Linked DNA regions of Homo sapiens: region 2 is linked to region 1. Evidence: fine-mapped expression QTL. A gene starts in region 1. The other region holds a variant in brackets. All regions are shown on one strand. Distances are between the middles of the regions. Region 1 holds the start of NIPSNAP3A (nipsnap homolog 3A). Region 2 overlaps LOC107987105 (a long non-coding RNA gene).

Region 1 (2,913 bases):
ACTTGCAGATAACAGTTTGGGGGGAGGGGATACAGCCTTCAGTGAAATACCCAGGTCAGATCACCTCACAGTGAAGCCCACTATTTGAAGAGATTCACCTGTGCTTACAGTGCTTTTAACATGTTTTTCTCACTCCAAAATATATTTTTAATGTAAACATCAATAAACGCAGGAAGGAAAGTGTATTTTGAGGGAGTGGTATGAAGAAACCTAAATCCTAAATATCCAAGTCAATAGCTAGAATCCTGACCACTTTTAGAATTCCACTAGCACCTTTATTCGTATCTTACTTTATTTTTCTTTATATTATTTGACAATCCCTGATATATTTACTCTTCCTTTTTTTATCTGTTTCCTCCATCCTGGATGTTCCAAGAGGACGGGACTTTGAATTTTGCTCAATTCTGTACCCCAGTTTCTGGAAAAGTGCCTGGAACATGGAAGGAATTTAGTAAATATCTGTTGAATAAGTAAATGGATTGGCAATTACAGGGTTTAAAAAAAAAGGTCTAAGAAAATAATTTACTCATATAGATCCAGTCCTGATACAAATGATTTTTTTAGTCTTGCATGGTTACAAATAGATGTCTCTCTTCTAGAAAAACTGAGGCAACCCTTCCGAAATAACTAATTTTAAAAAGTCTCCCTTCCTTTGAACAGACAATTCCAAAGCTCTTCCACAAGGCACAACCAATACAACCCAGGTCATGGCCCTGCAATCCCTCCCTAGTCCTCATGATGTAAGCAATATTACATTAATGTTTACAATAATGTAATTATTAGCAAGAATAATGTAAACATTAATATAGATTACTGTAAATTAATAGTGTAATTAATTACTGTAAATTAACATAAGCATTATTAGATGCAGGAAGACAAGTGAATTTGGGGGCAGTGGCATCTATGAGACATAAATCCTCATCTGCCACAGAAGGAAGTCAACACATACTATCCATAACTGAAAATGCAATAAACAGCAGAAAACACTACTTACTTAAAAATACAGAAACAAGCATTAAATGAAACAGCTTGAAATGTTGAAGGTGGTTACTCTGGGAACCAACACTCCCGGACTGGGAGGACTAGACCAGGGTATGTTTAACTTTGACTTTTTCATTTCAGGCTCGATGCTGCCATTTCTCTGAGCTCGTGGAAAATTTAATCTAAATCTTAATTAGGAGCCTTCTAAGATGGAGAACACATTCATTGCAGAGAGGTCAGGCTCAAATACACGTCTATCACAACATCTAAAACTTAACTCGGAAAAAACCTCCACGATTTTAAATACAAAGCACTGCACATGCACGCACTCAACACCTCTCCTTCTTTCCCCATGGTCAACACACCCACAACCCCTGCACATTTACCAATCTACACAACTGAGCACTGGAGCGAATGAGGTGAGTGAGGGCCCAGAAAGTTGAAGCAGGAACGATCCGAGCCTTCAGTTAATCCTAACGTCACCTCTAACGTTTGGGGTAAGAACGTTTCAGGAAACCAAGGGGGAACCAACGCTCAGCACAGCAGAGAAAGACACCAAGCTACGGGACCCGCCGCGCCTCCCGCGCCGGGGTGGAGCTGACCCCGCCGAGCCCCGCCCCAGCCTGCGTCTGCCAATGATCCAGGAGCCGCTCCTTTCCACTCGGGAAACCTTCAGAGGAGTCTCAGAAAGGACACGGCTGGCTGCTTTTCTCAGCGCCGAAGCCGCGCCATGCTCGTCCTCAGAAGCGCCCTGACTCGGGCGCTGGCCTCACGGACGCTGGCGCCTCAGGTACCGGCCACGGGGGTACCCAAGCCTTCACCCGACGGGAGGGGAGGGGCGGGGCGGGGAGTGTTCCGGGTACGTGCGAGCAATGCGCATGCGCTCTCCGCCACGCGCGCCCAGACCTGGGGCCCCGGTGAGGTTCTAGCGTGAGCCCCGGAACCCCAAGACAGGGGTACCCGGAACGCGCGTGAGGAGGAGGCCGCTGCTAGGGGAATACCCCCAGCCGGGGTCGTCTCGCGGGCAGTGGTGGTCAGAAGGCTTTTCTAGCCTGGATGCCACACCCACCGGGACACTCCCATGGCGCCGGCTGTTTCGTTTTTGCTGCCCAGCTATGTCGCGGCTGCGGCCCAGCGAGCGCTCCCATGTTGTCACCTGGCGCTGTGGAGCCGCGGGTGGAGTCGTAGCTTTCCAAGCCACCGCCCTCTCTAGACATCAGGTTGAAGGAGGGAATTGTCAACCAGCCGCTTGCCACGGAACCGGCCTCCCCCTTTTAAATGAAGCACACAACTTCCGAGCATTTCGCGGAGACCCTTGAAGAGGAGGCCCAGGGTCCCGGTGGGGCTGGACCCTGCCCGCCACCCGCGCTTCGTGTGGTCGCTCCCCCAACCAGGCGGGACCGGAGCCTCCTATCAAACCGGACGATGACAGACAGACTCTTTTAACCTTAGATGAGAAATGGACAAAATGGAGCTTGTGATTCTGCCCTAACTTTCGGGAGTGGCCTATTCTGTGGCTTCAACCTAGAAATTTCTTTTCCTTTTGATGTTTAGGACTTTACTCCTTTCTGAAGGGGCAGGATGGGAAGGGGATTAACCTGTCCTAGAGACAGACTGAGGAGCACTAAAGAAGAGCAGCTCATGTCCATTCACCCCGGGTTAACAATGCAGTTTTTACCCTAATGATTCTCCAGTGGGGCAGGGCCAGGAATGACGTCCTTATGGCATGATTCCAAACTTTAAGTTTTTAGAAATGTCCATCAGTTGTTCTCTTTTAAGTGAAGTGGAGGTCGTTGCTGGTGGGAATGATCCCTAACTTGGAGATAAGGGAGGATGGACGACTCATGATTTCTGCCCTAGCAGCTAAAAGTCATCCCTGCAACAAAATTCTTAACTCCCATCCGGCTCCCCCACCATACCCGGCTCCCCTGC
Region 2 (2,913 bases), 24 kb before region 1:
GCACTCCAGCCTGGGTGACACAGCGAGAATCCATCTCAAAAAATAAAAAAAATTAAAAAATTAAATATTGATCTCAGTGCCTTTTTTATCATTAGCAAAATTAATAGCCCTGCTCTTGCTGATTCCAGAGCCTGTTCTAAGAATAAAACAAAATGATGAATATGAAAGTTATTTGATAACTCTACATCAAAAATTCAAATTTTCCTGTCTCATGTTCTTTTCTAAACTCTGCAGATGACATGAACACATGGAGACAACAAATCACTCTGCCGTGACTGAATTCTTTCTGGTGGGGCTTTCCCAATATCCAGAGCTCCAGCTTTTTCTGTTCCTGCTCTGCCTCATCATGTACATGATAATCCTCCTGGGAAATAGCTTCCTCATTATCATCACCATCTTGGATTCTCGCCTCCATACCCCCATGTATTTCTTTCTTGGAAACCTCTCATTCTTGGGCATCTGTTACACATCATCATCCATTCCTCCAATGCTTATTATATTTGTATCTGAGAGAAAATCCATCTCCTTCATTGGCTGTGCTCTGCAGATGGTTGTGTCCCTTGGCTTGGGCTCCATTGAGTGTATCCTCCTGGCTGTGATGGCCTATGACCGCTATGTGGCCATCTGCAACCCACTGAGGTACTCCATCATCATGAACAGAGTGCTGTATGTGCAAATGGCTGCATGGTCCTGGATCATAGGCTGTCTGACCTCCCTATTGCGAACAGTTCTGACAATGATGTTGCCTTTCTGTGGGAATAATATCATTGATCATCTTACCTGTGAGATCCTGGCTCTTCTTAAAGTCATATGCTCAGATATCTCCATAAATGTGTTTATAATGACAGTGTCAAGTATTGTTTTATTGGTGATTCCTCTTAATTTTTATCTCCTATGTGTTTATTCTCTCTTCCATCTTGAGAATTAATTCTGCTGAGGGAAGAAAGAAAGCCTTTTTTACCTGTTCAGCGCACTTGACTGTGGTCATCTTATTCTATGGTTCAGTTCTTTTCATGCACATGAAGCCCAAATCAAAGTTCACAACAGCATCTGATGAAATCATTGGATTGTCTTATGAAGTGATCACCCCAATGAACCCCATCATCTACAGCCTGAGGAATAAGGAGATAAAAGAAGCTGTGAAGAAAATCCTCAGCAGACACGTGCATCTATGGAAAATATGAAAGGCCTTGAGGCATGTGACGTTCTCAACAAGGGATCAGATCAGGTGTTTTGTATTCACAGATAAAGTCACAGAATCTGGTATCAAGAGAGTGTGTATGTTTGTAAAGACAACTTTGGGATTCCCATTCTTCTCATCACAGAATGCTCATGTACACCTTCTGAATAATGTCTTGTGTGCAGAGTTTCAAGCTGTAGGTATCT[G/A]TGCTCACTGATCCCATATAGGGATAAGGTTTTTCATCAAGATAAATCTCACTCTTCTCTACTCTTTATCTCTTTCTCTTTCTTACTCACTTTTCTCTCCCTCTTCTCCATGTCCTCCTCTTTCTTGACCTTCCTCCTCTTCCCTTCTTCATCTACTTCCTTTATCTTTCTTCTGTCTTCTTGGTCTCCTTTATCCGTCATTTTGAATAGAACATCTGTTGCTTTGTTGTACAGCATCACCTCTTCTGGTAAAATAATATATCTTTTTTTTATATATATATAACAACAGTCTATTCCTCTGAGTCCATGTGGTCTGCATGGGACTAACTCAATCTTCTGGATATAGTGGTAGATGCTAAACAAAAGCCTAGCAAATAAAAAAGCAAATTCATCTCGCTACAGTGGCTCATTCAGGGTAGCAACTGAGCCAAGTCAGGCTAATCAAACTCAACCCAAGAATGCTGTCCCAGTAGGGCGGGGGAAAAAGGCACTCTTTCCACTAGGGTTGCTTAACTGGAGAATTGTGAGCCTGGAGCCAATCTTTGGCAGTATGAGCAGAGAGCCTAACTGAGATGCAAAGGGGAGTTCAGAAGGAGAGAGAGGGTGTCTGATGCTGTTAACTCCTCGATTCAGCTGTGTCTAAAGTCATTTTCACATTCTTTTTAGTTCATGAGTCAATAAATTATCTTTATATGAAAAGCTAATTTTAACATGAGGGGCATCATGGCAGACGGGAGGCAAGACTAGATTGCAGCTCCAGACAGAGCAGCGTGCAGAAGCTTACATTGTGAATTTTAGCTCCAGATCAACTGCAAGAACAAACCAGCAATCCTGAGAGGACCCACAGATGCTCTGAAGGAAGCAGACTGCTCCTGCAGGACCCAGGAGACACCCCAAATACTGTGAGTACCCCAACTGCAGAAATGGGAAAGGGAGACCCTCCTCTCCCAAACACACATCCCCACTGGAGAAGGTGAAGGTTTGTTTGCAGGAGAAGTTTCTGACTTCTGGAAGTTTACCTGGAGCTGACCTCAGAGAGCCGAGTGAAATACAGAGGTAGAGGAAGCAGCAGAAAGGCCCTAGGAGTTCACTGGGTCCCCAAGCAGCCCATTCCTGCCTGGCACCACAGGGATCCATCAGGAGGGTAGACAGAGAAGCAGGGGTAAAATTCCACAGGGACAAGGAATTCTATATCTGACCTTTGTAACAATTTGAATGGGGCGAGAAGCCTCCTGGTCAGAACGCAGAGGGCGCGAATCAGGTGTGCAGACTTCACAGGCAGAGGAAGGACTAAAGCCCTTTTCTCTTGCAGCTGGGACGCAGATAGCCTCGGACAAGTTTTCAAGCCTGTCTCACCCTCTGCCTGGACACAGACTCGGGGCTGTTGAGGGTGGCTGGGGCAAGGTGGGAGTGAGAGTAGCCCTTCAGTTTGCGTGGGAGCTGGGTGACACCTGTGACTGACAGCCTTACCCACTTTCCTGACAACCTGTATGACTCAGCAGAGGCAGCCATAATCCTCCTAGGTAC

Evidence for each region.
Region 2: its variant is fine-mapped to the expression of NIPSNAP3A in whole blood (TOPMed, PIP above 0.99).

The regions. Positions count from the first base shown.
Region 1 is chr9:104,746,082-104,748,994 of GRCh38, forward strand. It overlaps NIPSNAP3A (nipsnap homolog 3A), which reads left to right and starts at 1,602. Exons shown (of 6, transcript NM_015469.3): 1 at 1,602-1,771. The coding sequence starts at 1,712. LOC107987105 (a long non-coding RNA gene) reads right to left here and starts at 1,558. Exons shown (of 5, transcript XR_007061705.1): 1 at 1,368-1,558. RefSeq lists a silencer at 1,496-1,585 and an enhancer at 2,006-2,165.
Region 2 is chr9:104,722,088-104,725,000 of GRCh38, forward strand. The region is part of intron 1 of LOC107987105 (a long non-coding RNA gene); the gene reads right to left. It also overlaps the pseudogene OR13D3P. Among named protein-coding and RNA genes, the nearest start is that of NIPSNAP3A, 24 kb to the right of the region's middle. RefSeq lists an enhancer at 1,973-2,913. The variant G/A (reference allele first, on the strand shown) is at 1,387.